Homo sapiens: one gene and its partners. The protein of the gene in region 1 interacts with the protein of each later gene in a pairwise test. Each region holds a gene or a part of one and is shown on either strand. Other genes may lie near its edges.

The links.
Region 2: the proteins of CAPN3 (region 1) and TFCP2 interact in binary tests that used the Homo sapiens proteins (3 or more experiments, as listed by UniProt).
Region 3: the proteins of CAPN3 (region 1) and AMOT interact in a two-hybrid assay, tested with the Homo sapiens proteins (one large-scale study listed by BioGRID and IntAct).
Region 4: the proteins of CAPN3 (region 1) and GTPBP3 interact in binary tests that used the Homo sapiens proteins (3 or more experiments, as listed by UniProt).

Annotation. Positions count from the first base shown.
Region 1 is NC_000015.10:42,400,031-42,404,599, reverse strand, and holds part of CAPN3 (calpain-3), read right to left. Parts: intron 2,960-4,569; coding exon 2,790-2,959; intron 2,477-2,789; coding exon 2,465-2,476; intron 2,234-2,464; exon of another isoform or gene 2,042-2,233; intron 1,807-2,041; coding exon 1,598-1,806; intron 860-1,597; coding exon 823-859; intron 1-822. UniProt on the Homo sapiens protein: Calcium-regulated non-lysosomal thiol-protease. Proteolytically cleaves CTBP1 at 'His-409'. Mediates, with UTP25, the proteasome-independent degradation of p53/TP53.
Region 2 is NC_000012.12:51,096,646-51,100,749, reverse strand, and holds part of TFCP2 (alpha-globin transcription factor CP2), read left to right. Parts: intron 1-970; coding exon 971-1,095; intron 1,096-1,831; coding exon 1,832-1,974; intron 1,975-4,104.
Region 3 is NC_000023.11:112,813,332-112,817,445, forward strand, and holds part of AMOT (angiomotin), read right to left. Parts: intron 2,547-4,114; coding exon 2,027-2,546; intron 1-2,026.
Region 4 is NC_000019.10:17,339,939-17,343,231, reverse strand, and holds the end of GTPBP3 (5-taurinomethyluridine-[tRNA] synthase subunit GTPB3, mitochondrial), read right to left. Parts: intron 2,189-3,293; coding exon 1,910-2,188; intron 1,755-1,909; coding exon 1,529-1,754; 3' UTR 501-1,528; downstream 1-500. UniProt on the Homo sapiens protein: GTPase component of the GTPBP3-MTO1 complex that catalyzes the 5-taurinomethyluridine (taum(5)U) modification at the 34th wobble position (U34) of mitochondrial tRNAs (mt-tRNAs), which plays a role in mt-tRNA decoding and mitochondrial translation.

The sequences.
Region 1 (4,569 bases):
GCTTCTCACTGCCTGGGGCTGGCCTCAGCGTGGAGGTGCGGAAAAACCTAAGTCTGGAGTCAGAGAGTCTGAATGTGAGTTCCAACCCTGCCACTTACTGAGCTCTGTGAACTCAGAGAAGTCATTCAACCCCATTGAGCCTCTGCTTCCTTTCTTGAACACCAGGGATTATAACCCCATCTACCTCTCAGCAACCTTGCAAGTATCGCGATGACACATGTGAAAAGTACCTTGTAAGGTGTAAAGTGTGAAAAAGCACCTCTGTTTGAGTGCCCATGCTGTGCCAGACACTTCACATACATCACCTCATTGATGAAGCCTCACAAAAGCCTTGCAAGGCACATTATCATCCCCGTTTTACTGAGTAGGAAACTGAGTGAGAGGGATTACAGAAATTGTCCAGGTCACCCCGCTGGTAAGTGGAGGATCCAAGTGTCAACACCAGGTCCGGCACCAGCTTACTTTCTTTTCTCTATGTGTGAAATCCAATGTTATCCAGTCTCAGAATCCAGTGTTCGCTGCGGCTCTTGTCATCCCTTCCTGTGGCCTTGTTCCCTCCGATTGTTCAAATTGCTTCTCCTTTCCAGGACCCTCTTCCATATTTCCCAGCCCCTGAACTGCCTCAATGGCCCCCGGTGCTTAAGGCCGATTACTTCTGGCCATGCCAAAGTAGGATTTGCAGTGCCAAGGAGGGACTGCTCAGCACAGCCCAGACTCCCATTCCCTCTGCCAGTGCCCATTCTCCCCTGCACCATCTGTCCCCTGCATGGTCAGGGAAGGGGACCCTCTGGACTTTTCGCACAGAAGATCTAAACCACTCACCACTGGCCGATCCACGGAGATGGTATTTTCAACTTCCCTGTGAGGAATACAGACATGTGGGGTCTCAGTGTCACCAGAAGCAAGCAGGAGGCCCGTGGACGGTTTGCTCTGGTGCACGGCTTCCTGGCAGCCAAGCCAGAACCAGCCTCTAGAGAACCCCTGGAACACCCCAACCCCAGGAACCAGCCCCATGTCAGCACCATCCCCGACAGCCAAGCCCAGGCACGCAGGTTCTTGTTAGTATTGCTCAGAGCCCCCCAAAGGCATGACCCAGCCACCTACCCATGGACCTGGTGCATCTTCCAAGGACAGAGATCAGAGTGGCAGGGGCTATGAGCTCATCTGTGGTGGCCAGGGACAGGATGTGGCTTTCCTGGCCATGCTAACCTAAAATTTCAAGCATCCCCAACACCTCCTATCCCTCTTCCCTACTTTATTTTTGCTCCATATCACCTCTCCAAATCTAACATGCTACATATGTTTTTCCTATCCATTATTGTCTCATGTTAGAATATTAAGCTCCATGAAGGCAGGGATTTCTTTCTGTTTACTTCACTACTCTATCCTTAGTGCCTAGGACAGTGCCTGGAACATAGTAGGTGCTCAATAAATATCACAGAATGGATGAATGAATGAATGGGGGTAATGTGGCCAGTGGCTCAGGAGCAGCAGAAGGACCCTGGAGGAGACGTGTCTAGCTGCCTCATGCCTTCAACCTCTGGAGTGGGCCATGTGAGCTTTTAGAAACACGTGGGAAAGCTGGGCCAGCACTCACTCAGAGAGGTTCCTCTTTTCAGAGAAGACCCGGAGGATGAATTCCCCCTCCTGGTGGGGCTCGTAGGTGGAGGGCACGATGACGTACTCGCTGGGAGGCAGGCGGAAGCGCTGGGACACCTCCCGCATGTTGATGTAGGTTTTGCTCCTGGCCTTGGAGGCGTTGTACAGGAAGAAGTCCTTCTGCAGGTGCTGCTTGTTCCCGTGCATCTGAGAGATGGGGAGAGCCCAGGGCACATGAGCCCCTCGGGAGGAACATCCTGTCCTGCCACAGCCACCTCCAAGGGTCCCTTCCCAACTCCCTGGTCACCCATGTCACAGTTTCAACCTCCCTACTTCCGACTCCCAAGGCTTAAATAGCCTCCCTACCTCACTTCCTCTTCCTTTTCTGTTGTGATTCAGAGTGAATGGCAAATGTGTCATCCCCACACTCAGGGACACTTACCAGAACAGCTGCTCCTCAGCTCCGAAGCCCCTCAGGCTGGAAGGACCCCCAAGGAGGCCTAGAGGACTTGGCTGGGTTCTGAGGGAAGTGATTCCTCCATCCCAAGCGGGCAGCCACCCTCAGAACGCGTCTGTGTGACTGTGTGTGTGGCTGTAAGCGTGGAGGAGGGTGAGTGTGCAAAGGCATGTGTGTGACGTGCAGTGTCTGGTGCGAGGGAGAAAGTGCACATCCTGGGGGTGGTAGTCATGGGTCATGCAATGCCCTGAGGCACCTGCTCTGCAGTGGAAATAACACAGGCAAGGCCCTCTCCTATCACAGTCCTGCCCACAAACCCCACCAGGAAGCTTCTCGACGAGCCACAGACAGACTCGGGGCCCCCTGGGTAGTGCTGCACACAACTGCTGGCCGCTGCTGCTGCTATACCTCTTTGGGAACCTTGAGAAGAAACAGAAAGGAAGATGCTTCAGATGTGAATGAGGATGAGGAGCCTGCGGAAGGCAATGCCAGCAACTGCAGCCCGCATGCGGAAGCCTGACCCCCAGGCACCTGTTCTGCCAGGCCCGCTCCACTGCCTCTCTAATGCCCCCCCTGGTATTTTTTGCTTGTTACAAACACAAGTGGTCCTGATACCAGGAGCTCTGTGGGTCACTGGGTATTGAGGAAGCCAGAGGGCCCCTCTAGAAGCCCCTGGAAGCGTCCTCCCTGGGAAAGTATGTTTCCTGGGCTGGAGCCAATCAGGACTGCACACCTCGTAGATGGCGAAGCCAATGGTGAAGAGACTGGCCCCTAGCTTCCGGTCCTTCCGCCGGTTCTTCTGCATCAGGGCCACCAGGAAGCTGCAAATCACCTCCGAGTCATCAGGGTCATCGTCCTCCTCCAGGAGCTTCAGACGGTACTGAGGGTTGGTCCAGAAAGTATCTGCACCCCCAGAAAGGAAGCACGCATTCACAGCTGCCTCTCAGAGGGCAGGAAGGGGATGAGACAGAGGGAGCCATTTATTTCTATTCCCTACATCTAGGTGCTTAGGAAATATCAACAGAAAACACGATTCAGGCATTTCTCTAATGATTTGGGGGGGGGGGGGGCGCTACCTTTATTCAGATGGAGCTGTACTGATTGTATGTGTGGCTTTTCCTTCCTCTCTGGGCTTTCATTCTCAGTCTTTGCTGATGGTTTTGTTTTCCTTACCTGCCCCTTAAACGCTGTTGGTGACTAGAATCTGGTCCTGGGCCTCTTCTCCTCTCACCTCACCCTTCCTGCCTCCCTAGGCAATCTTTCTTACTTCTGCTTTTTAACTGCCCCCTACACGCGCATGATGCCTGAGCCATATATCCCAGCCTCAATCTCTCTCACTTTTTTTTTTTTGAGACGGAGTCTGGCTCTGTTGCCCAGGCTAGAGTGCAGTGGCGCGATCTCGGCTCACTGCAGCCTCCGCCTCCTGGGTTCAAGCGATTCTTCTGACTGAGCCTCCCAAGTAGCTGGGATTACAGGCACCCACCATCATCCCCGGTTAATTTTTGTATCTTTAGTAGAGATGGGTTTTCACCATGTTAGCCAAGCTGGTCTCGAACTCCTGACCACAAGTGATCCGCCTGCCTCAGCCTCCCAAAGTGCTGGGATTACAGGCATAAGCCACCACGTCTGGCCTCTTCTTTCCTTTATTCCTCAAATATTTTTTGAGTTCTTATCATATCACCAAGTGCCATCTAATATGCGCATCCGATGCTCTATTACAAATCTTCACTGGGACACTCTACAGGAACCTCAAACTTTCCATGTCCCAAGCTAAATTCCTTTCCCTAGAACCCCACAATTAACTCCACCAAAAACAAACAACACGCTGATATTTTTCTCTTGTGTGTCTTTTTTTTTTGAGGCAGGGTCTCACTCTGTCACCCAGGCAGGAGTGCAGTGGCATGATCACAGTTTATTGTAGCCTCAACCTCCCGAGCTCAAGCAATCCTCCCACCTCATTTTTTTTTTTATTTTTTGTAACGATGAGGTGTCACTATGTTGCCTGTGCTGGTCTTGAACTCCTGGGCTCAAGTGATCCTCCTGGCTCTGCCTCCCAAAGTGCTGGGATTATAGGCATGAGCCACCCACCCGATCTTCTTGTGTGTCTTATGTTGCAATGTTGTCAGGTCCCCAACTGGGAATCTTGACATCATTCTTCTTCCTTCCCTACATCACCCAATATGCTCTCCCTAAATCTGCTGTCTCCCCTCCATCTCTGCTGCTACTGACTTGGTCTAGGTTTTCATCATCTCTGACTTGAACTATTGCAGCAGCTGCTAACTTGGTTCTCCAATAGTGCCCTTACTGTTACTGACACAGTACTCACAGTCCCTGACTTAGGATGGTTCGGCTACAATTTTTTAACTTTACAATGTGAAAGAGATGCACATTCAGTAGAAACTGGATTTCGAGTACCCGTACAACCATTCTGTTTTTCACTTTTAGTACAGTATTAAGTAAGTTACATGAGATATTCAACACTTTCTTGTAAAATAGGCTTTGAGTTAGATGAT
Region 2 (4,104 bases), on another chromosome or scaffold:
CTCGATTTCCTGGGCTCAAGCCATCCTCCTGCCTAGATCCCTGAGCAGCTGGGACTACAGGCACGCACCACCACGCCCGCCTAATTTTGTACTTTTTGTAGAGGCGGGGTTTTGCCGTGTTCCCCTGGCTGGTCTCAAACTCCTGAGCTCAAGCAATCCTTCTGACTCGCCTTCCTAAAGTGCTGGGATTACAGATGTGAGCCACCGTGCCTGGTCATATTTGTTTTTGTCTACATCATAAGGGATGTTGAATCTTGGAAAATTTTAAGGAAGGAAGTGAAATCAGGGGTTGATGACTTGTGGAAAAATAATTGATCTTTCATTTTTTCAAGCATATTATCTAAAGGGTGTTTAGAAATTGGAAGGAGTAAGATGATCAGATCAAGAGGTAGTTGAATACCTTTCTCTAAGAAGAACAGAGAAAGGACTTAGGCTAGTTAGGAGAAGGTAATGAGAGAAATAAGATGATCTAGTTTACTGTGTTGGCATTTTTTAGTAAAAAGTATATCTTGAACCTGACCCATTAGACGGTGGCTTTTATATTTTGACTATTTCTAACTTTTACACCAAAGGCCACAAACTCAAATGACTATAGAGTACATACAGGTAATGTAAGTGAATGGCAGTCAAGACTGGGGTATAGTGAAGAATATATGCATCATGTAAGAAGAACGGCTGATTGTTTTCATGTGAGAATGCAGGCCTAAGATTGCTAGATCTGAGTCTTCAGGAAAAGCCAAAAGTTCAGAGGTTTATATGATGTCTCATATTGGAACTAATTCCACTTAAGGAAAAAAAAAACCCTACTACTGGGGAACTAATAAAACATAGCAAATTAATTGCATTTGGCCAATGAGCTTCCAATTTTCATCTGCTCTATACGATTAATGTAGAAACACAATTTCTCCCTTCTTTTTATTGTGCTTACCATAAAGAATGTAAGACTAATTAGCCTTTTTCCTCCCCTTAGGATGGTGCGTCCAAGGTTAACCATTTATGTTTGTCAGGAATCACTGCAGTTGAGGGAGCAGCAACAACAGCAGCAGCAACAGCAGCAGAAGCATGAGGATGGAGACTCAAATGGTACTTTCTTCGGTAGGTTGTTCTGGACACACTAGGACAGATATGAAGAAAGGTGAAGAGATAACTTATGGGCATGTGTGATGGGAAACTATCAAACAGCAGATTTAGTATTTGCTAGAAGTAACAATAATCACTAGCATTTATTAAGTTCCTAATACATGGCAGGTGCCATTCTTTTTTTTTTTTTTTGAGACAGAGTCTCACTCAGTTACCCAGGCTGAAGTACAGTGGCACAATCATGACTCATTGCAGCCTTGACCACCTGGGCTCAAGTGATTCTCTCCCCTCAGCCTACCGAGTAGCTAGAACTAAAGCTACTCATTTGCCTAATTGTTTTATTTATTGTAGAGATGGGATCTCCCTATGTTGCCCAGGCTGGTCTTGAACTCCTGGGCTCAAGCGATCTCCCTGCCTCAGCCTCCCAAATTGCTGGGACTATAGGTGTAAACCACTACACCCAGCCAGGTACTATTCTTAACACTTTTTATATGCTTTAATATTTACAACTAATATCTCCTCTTTGCGGAGGATTTTACTGTTATCTCCGGTATTTATGCAAGAAAAATCAGGCCTAGGAATGTTAAATAACTTGCCCTAGGTCACACAGCTGCAAGTGGTTGAGCCAGGATTTGAACTTAGGCAGTGTGATTTCTGAGTCCTTCAGAAAAGTGGGCATTCCTAGTGATCAAGTTACCTGTAAGAGTGGACAAACTTTGTACTGACTGCTGTTGCTCTCTCCCTTTTGCAGTTTACCATGCTATCTATCTAGAAGAACTAACAGCTGTTGAATTGACAGAAAAAATTGCTCAGCTTTTCAGCATTTCCCCTTGCCAGATCAGCCAGATTTACAAGCAGGGGCCAACAGGAATTCATGTGCTCATCAGTGATGAGGTAGATTTTTCAGTACAGTTGAATTACCAGATGATGATTAATTTGTCAGCGCATGGAGCAAGAGCAGTTCTCCTGGGGCAGAGTGTTCTGTTTTCTAGATCAGAGGGTTTCATACTTTTTTGCTTGCTTTCCTCCTAATTTTTTTTTTTTTTGAAACAGTCTCTCTCTGTTGCCCAGGCCGGAGTGCAGTGGCCCAATCTCAGGTCACTGCGACCTCCTCCTCCTGGATTCAAGTGATTCTCCTGTCTCAGCTTCCCGAATAGTGGGAATTACAGGCGTGCGCCACCACGCCTGGCTAATTTTTGTATTTTTAGTAGAGATGGGGTTTTGCCATGTTGGCCAGGTTGGTCTCAAACTCCTGGCCTCAAGTGATCCACCCGCCTCGGCCTCCCAAAGTGGTGGGATTCCAGATGTGAGCCACTGCGCCTGGTCCTAAAATATTTTAAAAACCACATATTCCCATGCACATTTTTAGGTTGACTTAAAATTTTTTGTTAAAGTTTAAATAGTTGTAAAAGATGTCATTTCTGGGCATATATAATGACATTTTTAAGTGAAATGGTTACATCATTATTCTAATTGCATCCCATGTAACCTTAATACAAAAATGATTTAATACCACCACCATCCATTAAAAAAAAATACATGATTGTGCTTTTCTTTAACAGTTAGAATTCTTATACTATTCCTCTGTTTCCTTGAACTCTTATTTTCATTTACTTCCCCCGGTGAATTTTATCTTACTGTAACTTTTTTTTTTTGAGACAGAGTCTCACTCTGTCGCCCAGGCTGTTGTGCGGTGGTGTGATCTCGGCTCACTGCAACCCCGCCTCCTAGGTTCAAGCAATTCTCCTGCCTCAGCCTCCCAAGTAGCTGGTATTACAGGCACCCACCACCATGCCTGGCTAATTTTTGTATTTTTAGTAGAGGCTGGGTTTCACCATGTGGCCAGTCTGGTCTCGAACTCCTGGCCTCAAGTGATCAACCCGCCTCAGCCTCCCGAAGTGCTGGGATTACAGATGTGAACCACCACGCCTGGCCATCTTACCATAACATATTTTTATGCACAAACATCTTTTATTGATTATCCTACTATATTTGTTTGAAATAAAGTTTTTAAATAAAAATTTAAAAATTATTATAATGGAATTATCATAATTATACAATTGATTAAAATAATGTAAATATGCTACATGTTTTAATAAGTAATTATTAAAGATTAAGAAGGCTGCCCAGGCGCAATGGCTCATGCCTGTAAACCCAGCACTTTGGGAGGCTGAGACGGGTGGATCACAAGGTCAGAAGTTCAAGACCATCGTGTCCAAGATGGTGAAACCCCATCTCTACTAAAAATACAAAAATTAGCTGGGCATGATGGCAGGTGCCTATAATCCCAGCTACTTGGGAGGCTGAGGCAGAGAACTGCTTGAACCCGAGAGGCAGAGGTTGCGGTGAGCCAAGATTGCGCCACCGCACTCCAGCCTAGGCGACAGAGCGAGACTTCATCCAAAAAAAGAAAAAAAGAAGGCCAGGCACAGTGGCTCACACCTGTAATCCCAGCACTTTGGGAGGCCGAGGCAAGCAGATCACCTGAGGTCAGGAGTTTGACCAACATAGAGAAACCCTGTCTCTACTAAAATACAAAATTAGCCGGGTGTGGTGGCACGTGCCTATAATCCCACCTACTCAGGAGGCTGAGGCAGGAGAATCCCTTGAACCCAGGAGGCGGAGGTTGCGTGAGCCGAGATGGGGGCATTGCGCTCCAGCCTGGGCAACAAGAGCAAAACTCTGTCTCAGAAAAAAAAAAAAAAATTAAGAAAAAATTATTACAGGTATATCTATGAATGAGTTCGATGAAATTGTTTCGTTCCCTACCTGTACCCTTGCACATAATTATTTCCTTTGTAGCTGAATACTGCCTATTGATTGCTAGAATGACACAGGATTTCAGCATCAATTCCATTCTGTTTTTTTCCTCTAGATATAAATGCTGAGGGACTTGATTCCCATAAATTGATAGGAATGGATGGAATTTTGTAATGACAATGTCATTAGATTATACTTCAGAATTATATACCAGAAATTACATAGTGATATTACCAAAAAATCATTTTGAATCCTCTGTCTTAC
Region 3 (4,114 bases), on another chromosome or scaffold:
GCAGAGAGGAGGGTGGCAGTGGGTTTTCCAGACTTACTCTGTCTACTTATTCCCCTCATGAGCCTCAGGCCTTTTCATTTCCTCCAGCACTACCTGGGATCTACCTTAATTTTCCCCACTTTCCTTTTCCTCTCCTGGTCCACCTTCCCCTCTACTCTACCTCGACACTGGGTCAGCCTCTACTTTCCCAACATTCAAGCTGTTCCAGTTACACTTATTTGAGGCATCTTTTCCCATCTTGGGGAACAAACAACAGCAATCCTATTCTCTGTCCCTCTTCCCTGTCACTGGCTGAACCCACTCCCACACACACAAAAAATCACCATGGATCCTCTGGCAAAAAGGGCCCGTATTAGAGCTGGGTTCATCCTTCAGTGATTGTATCAAAGATGGGCTGGGATCACCATGAAGAGAGAGTTTGGAGAGGGGGTGTCAACTGTTAGCCTAATCAGCCAGACTGGGTTTCTAGTGTATGGATATAATTAATTTATTTCACCAAAGCGATGGGGATAGGGATATAGTTAAAATTTGCGGGTGAAAATACAAAATCAGGGAAAAGCCGGGAAGAAACAATTCTCAGAGCACTCCAACAACCCTCATCCAGATTTAGGAAAACTAAGGGACAGGGAAGCCATTTTCCTATATAAAAATCCTCTGTTTGCCAGGCGCAGTGGCTCACGCCTATAATCCCAGCACTTTGGGAGACCAAGGCGGGCGGATCACCTGAGGTCGGGAGTTCGAGACCAGCCTGGCCAACATGGAGAAACCCCGTCTCTACTAAAAATACAAAATTAGCCAGGCGTGGTGACACATGCCTGTAATCCCAGCTACTCAGGAGGCTGAGGCAGGAGAACTGCTTGAACCCAGGAGGCGGAAGTTGCAGTGAGTGGAGATCGTGCCATTGCACTGCAGGCTAGGTAACAAGAGCGAGACTCCGTCTCAAAAAAAAAAAAAAAGAAAGAAAGAAAAAAAATCATCTGCTGATAATAAGCCCCTGTCTCCTTGAGGCCCCCAGATTTGGTGTCTGTTTACAAATACTCAGCTTCATTCAGGCCTCTGAAATTTTCACTCCTGGTGTTTCCTAAGGACAGAGTTGCTGGACAATACAAGGCATCCTCCTGTCCCTCCCCCACCTTCACCCTCACCTCTCTGAACAGTTCACATTGTAGGGAGACCAAACCACAATAGCTCCACAATGACAAAAGCTGCAAAGAAGCGGCCAAAGGCATAACCCTATTCACCAGCAGCCCCTGGAAGCCAAGAGCTAAGGTTCCTCGCTTGGGGTACTCCAGAGGTAAAGTCCCAATGGGGGTGGGCAGAGAAGAATGTGAACTGGAGATACACTCCTTTTTCTATTTCCTCAGCCTAGGGCTGTCACCTGTCACCCAGCTGTGGTGTTAAGCCCCTCCTGCCCCCCACATACAACAGAGAAAGAGAGCAGATGTTGAATTTGAGCTGCAGGGAGGGACCAAATCAAAGGGTGGGGTGGAGGGATTGTTGAAAGAGAGTTACTATGAGAACTCCCACTAGGAAAAAGTATTCTGAGCCTTTTCCAGAACAAGGCAGGACTGCTCAAACTTTAGCTGGTGAGATTTTTCTAGGAACTACATTTATTTTTATATTTAAGATTCAAATTCATATTTGGGAAAATGTGACCAAGACAATGAGCCTTAAGGTGCCGTCAGATCCTTTACCTATAAAGGCATCACCAGTATTCTTATCAAGAAGTATCACTGCCTTTTGGAATTCTAAAAGAATTAATCACGTTTTCTTTAGGGCTATAGCGTCTGGAAAAACTGCATAAATTTTTTTCTCCTTGTGTAAATGTAAGACGTTACTTCTCCTAGGTAGACAGGTAGAAGGCTTTTTCCAAAGTTTGACTCATATCTAACCTTCAGATATAAAAATCCTGAAGACCTGCCACAAGTAATGCTGGGATTCACAACTGGAGACTTTAATGTGGATATTAAACAAGTCTCACAAATAAAGACTTAGAGACCCTAATATCCCAAAACGGAAGCCTCACCTTCTGCAGTCTTGCCACCTTCTCATAGCATCCTTCCAACTCTTGCCTCAAGTTCCGGTTCTCGTCTGAGAGGATCTCAACCATCTGCTGGGCTCTGGAAACAATGGCAAAAGGGTCTGCTGGCACTGGCTGATAAGAAGCAGAGGATGGCTGAGCCCGAGGCATAGCTGAATAGGCTTCTCCTGGCTGCTGCTGTGGCTGCTGCTGCTGCTGTTGTTGGTGGTGATGGTGATGATGGTGCTGCTGCTGCTGTTGCTGCTGCTGCTGACTCAGGCCAGGTTGGGAGAGACGGTAATGATCCCCCTGGTGAGCCTGATTAGGAAGGAAATGCTGCTGCGGCCTAGGCAGGTGAGCTGAATGGTCTCCCTGGTTTGGGACCAAGGGGTGTCGGGCAGGAGACAATCTAGTGGATGGTGGAGATTGTAGCAAGGGCAAGGACCCCCCAGAGGTCAGAGAAGAAGTAGGGCTGTGAGGCTGCGAGTTCCTGGCTGACAATGGCAATGAGATGTCCTGCGCTGGCCTGTAAAACATGAAGGGCAGGTGCGGGTTAATTTCTCTCCTAAGGCACTGGGGGAGAAGGGCACACAAAAGTGAGATGAGGAGGCTTCTGATGCCCCCAGGACACCTGCAAAATGAAGAGCAGGCAGGGTCTGACTATGGGGAAGTCTAACCCTGCCTGCTCTATCTCTGCAAAGACCACAGCCCTTTTCCAGCCTGACCTTCTGTGCCTCTGCCTGACAAACAGAGGTGTGATCCCATGAGGGTCAGAACCAGACAACTTCCATGGTCACTTTGTGAAAATCGTAGTGATACACACCTGTACACCCGTTTGCTCAAGTCTAAACATTTCAAACGATTCTTCTACAAGGTAATTTTCATCTCATTATTTTAAATTAAACCTTTTCTGACATTATACACGTGGTCCAGCACACATAAAGATCCTAGTTTAGAAACTATGTTCCATTTGCCAGGATGGAAACAACAAACAGCCATAAAAACCACCCCCATCTTGCTATCTGCAACTCCCTTTAGTAATTCATACATTCACAAAAAAAAAGAAAAAAAACTATTCAAGGATTGGTAGATACTTATATTAGAGACACTAAATGATTATTGTTGCTTCCAGTTGTTAACGATTTAATGATTCCCATTAGCAGTAACCATAAAAAGACTTGAAGAGGGTTACAAGCAATGCTAACATACTATTTTTGATGTAATGAATCGCAAAATGTAAGAACTGGAAAGGCCTTAAAAGAAAATTATTTAGTTCAACTCTATCACTGGACAGATGGGGAATGAGGTCCAGAAAGGGGAAGTCATCTGCCAAATATTAGAGTGGTGGTGCCAAGATAGAATCCTTCTTTCCCAATTCCCATTTTCTGGCTTTTTCTACTGCCATAATGCATTGATTTCTGTGCACTGATACTTAGATTTCCAACCTATTGCTCATAGAAAGTTCCAGAAAGAGACCTTTGGTACATTGTTTAATGTGGCTCTCCCATTTTTGTACCTAATTACCAGGTACAAAATGCTAACACCTAAGTATAAATAATTCATACCTAATGACTATTAGCCATTAAGGGAAACAATTAGTATGTGGATGGATCACTTCCACCATCACCACTACCAGGAATAGTATCTGTCAGTGTGCACTGAAGACAAAAAGCTTGTTCATGCCCTAGCTCATGCCCAATTAACCTCATATGCTCCCATGTCCTGTGGACACTTGTTCTACAGTTGATATTTCTCAATCCAGGGAAGACAGATGGCTAAGTGCATGGGATCTGGATCCCAACAGAGGGAGTCTGGAGACCTCTTCTACTGCTCACGAGCTGTGTAACTTGGTGCAAGTTACTTAATCTGCATGAGCCCATTTTATTCTTGAGGTCACAAATAAATTGCAAAAATACTGGGGTCTTCTCATTTTTGGCGGAATAGGAATTACAGTCACTTCTCTACCTCCCAGTGAGATAAGCTGACCTTGTTAGCTTGTTACTTAAAGGATATCCATTTAATCTTTGCAATAAATTGCATAAAATTCATGGTGGAACTGGGACAAATCACCAGGAGCAATTAACTTTTAACTGG
Region 4 (3,293 bases), on another chromosome or scaffold:
ACCCATCTCTACTAAAAATACAAAAGTTAGCCAGGTGTGGTAGGGTACACCTATGATCCCAGCTGCTCGGGAGGCTGAGGCACGAGAATGGCTTGAGCTCAGGAGGCAGAGGCTGCAGTGAGCTGAGATCACACCACTGCACTTCAGTCTGGGCAACAGAGCAAGACTCTGTCACACACACACACACACACACACACACACACACACACACACACACACTTTGGGAGGCCACAGGTGGGCAGATCACAAGGTCAGGAGATCAAGACCAGCCTGGCTAACACAGTGAAACCCCATCAAAAAAAAAAAAAAAAAAAAAGAAGACTAAAGACTAAAAAAGGAATGAGGCCAGGCACCGTGGCTCACACCTGTAATCCCAGCACTTTGGGAGGCCAAGACAGCAGGATGGCTTGAGTCCAAGAGCTCAAGACCAGCCTGGGCAACATAGTGAGACCCCCCATCTCCATAATTCTGTTTTTTTTTTAAAAAGAAATGACAATTTGTAGAGCAATGAACACAATACCATTTATATATGATACACAAGACAAACATATTTGAAAGGTACATCCACAAGTATGCAAACATTCAAAGTTCTGGAAAGACACACATTAAGCCATGACAACCACAGAAGGGCTAAGGAAAATTTCCATGTTGAAACACTTCTGGGGCCAGGTGTGATAGCTCACGCCTGTGATCCCAGCACTTTGGGAGGCCAAGGTAGGCAGATTACCTGAGGTCAAGGAGTTCAAGACCAGCCTGGTCAACATGGTGAAACCTTGTCTCTACTAAAAATACAAAAATTAGCCTGGCGTGGTGGTGTGCGCCTGTAGTCCCAGCTACTCAAGAGGCTGAGGCAGGAGAATCACTTGAACCCGGGAGGTGGAGGTTGCAGTAAGCCGAGGTCGCACCACTGAACTCCAGCCTGGGTGACAGAGCGAGACTCTGTCTCAAAAAAAGAAAAAAATTAGCCGGGCATGCTGGCACATGCCTGTAATCCCAGCTACTCAGGAGGCTGAGGCAGGAGAAGCGCTTGAGCCCCGGAGATGGAGGTTGCAGTGAGCCAAGGTCGCACCACTGCACTCCAGCCTGGGCAATAGACAGAGGAGGGAAGGGTAGGGGAAGGGGAAGGGGAAGGGGAAGGGGAAAGGGAAAGGGAAAAGGAAAGGGAAGGGAAGGGAAGGGAAGAAAATAAACACTTCTAGATCACCTGAGTTTTTTTTACATTCCTTTGGTATTTGCAAAATAAATAAAAAACTACGAAACAAATATACTGAGATCCTCCTATCTCCATCCCAACCCGGATGCCCCAGCATCAAGGGTCGAACGGGACCTCCATTCAGCCCCATTCCAGGGCCTGAATCTCCAGGGAGTCCCTGCAGGGATCTCACTACCTCTCAGCTGTGTTGCTTCACTATTTGAGAATCAAGTTCTTTCCCAGGCGAATGAGAATCCCAATTGGCCTAAACTGTTTCCAGATCCCCCGAGGCTCCTGGGTCTCCACGCAGCTTGGGTGCGACTTCCCTGGATCCCGTCACTTGCCCACACAGAAGTCCTGGAAGATGATGTCCAGGATCTCCTCGGTACCCCCTCCACCTGTGAGCCGGGTCAGGTGACCCCGGGCCACCCGCAGCGCCTCTGCCGCCAGGGCCAGGTCTTTTGACTGCTTGTAGTGGCCGAGGGCATCCAGGCAACCCTGGAGGTGGTGCTGGTGCCTTGCTCGGGTCAGCAGCGGGGGATCTGTGGACGGGTCCCCACACCTGGAAGAGACAAGAGACATGGTCTCTCCCGACCTTTTACAACCATCCCTTGAAGGGGAAATGGTTGTACCCATTTTGTAGGTTCAGAAATTGAAGTTGAGGGACCCACACTTAAACTGTGGGTCAGGGGAGGCTGGGAGTGGGAGGGGGCTCACACTGCAGCTAGCTCCTTCCTCAGCGCCTCCAGGAGGCCGTCCAGCCCCTCTCCCGTCAGACAGGACAGCAGCAGGTGCGGGGGCAGGTCAGGACCGGGACCTGGGCCCTCCGGGGACAGCAGGTCCGACTTGTTCAGCACCAGGAGGAGGCGCTGGCTGCTGTCACTGGGGCTCTGGGCTCCCACAGAGGCTACGACGGTGGCCAGGAAGTTGCAACTGGAGGGAGAGGCCAGGTCAGAAGCATCCAGCATGGCCAGAATGAGGTCAGCCTGCTCTAGCCTGCGGGAGCAAGGTCAACTGAGCGGGGATCCCAGGTTGAGCAATTGAAGGCACTGGGTGGAGGGACAGTTAGAGGGGCCAGGCAGAGCACTGGGGGAGCTGCGAAGCGTGAGGTCGGGAGGGAGGAGTAGAGTACCAGGGGACCGGCAGAATGTTGGGGGCCCAAGCCGAGCACAGGGGGTGGGGCAGAGCAAGAGGGGCGGGGCACAGTGCAGGGGGAAGGGCAGAGCAAGAGGAGCGGTCACGGTGCGGGAGCGGGGCAGAGCAGGAGGGGCTGGGCACAGTGCAGTGAGTAGGGCAGGGCAGGAGGGGCGGGGCACAGCACAGGAGGGCGGGGCAGAGCAAGAGGGGCAGAGCACTGTGCAGGGGGAAGAGCAGAGCAAGAGGGACAGGGCACAGCACAGGGGCTGGGACAGAGCAAAAGGGGCCGGGTACAGCACTGGAGTGGGGCGACCATGAGTGGCGGGGCAGAGCAAGAAGGACCAGACACACCACAGGGTAAGGGGTAGAGAGCACCAGGGGTGGGGCAGAATGTAGGGGGTGGACAGAGCACAGGGGATGGGATAGACCGCAAGGGGCAGAGCGGAGTGCCAGGGCGGGACAGAGCACGAGAGGGCGGGGCAGAACGTGAGGGCTGGGCGGAGGGCTTAGGGATGAGAAACATGTCCGGAGGGCCGGGGGCAGGACTTAATCAGAACTAAATCACTGGCCGGGCACAGTGGCTAACGCCTGTAATCCCAGCACTTTGGGAGGCCGAGGCAGGCGGGTCACCTGAGATCAGGAGTTCGAGACCAGCCTGGCCAACATGGTGAAACCCCCATCTCTACTAAAAATACAAAAAATTAGCCTGGCATTGTGGTGGGCGCCTCTAATCCCAGCTACTCGGGAGGCCCAGGCAGAAGAATCACTTGAACCCGAGAGGCGGAGGTTGCAGTGAGCCGAGATTGTACCACTGCACACTCCAGCCTGGGCAACAAGAGCGAAACTCCGTCTCAAAAACAAAAACAAAACACCAGGCCAGGTGCGGTGGGCTCACAACACTTTGGGAGGCCGAGGCTCAGGAGTTAGAGACCAACCTGGCCAACATAGTGAAACCTCATCTCTA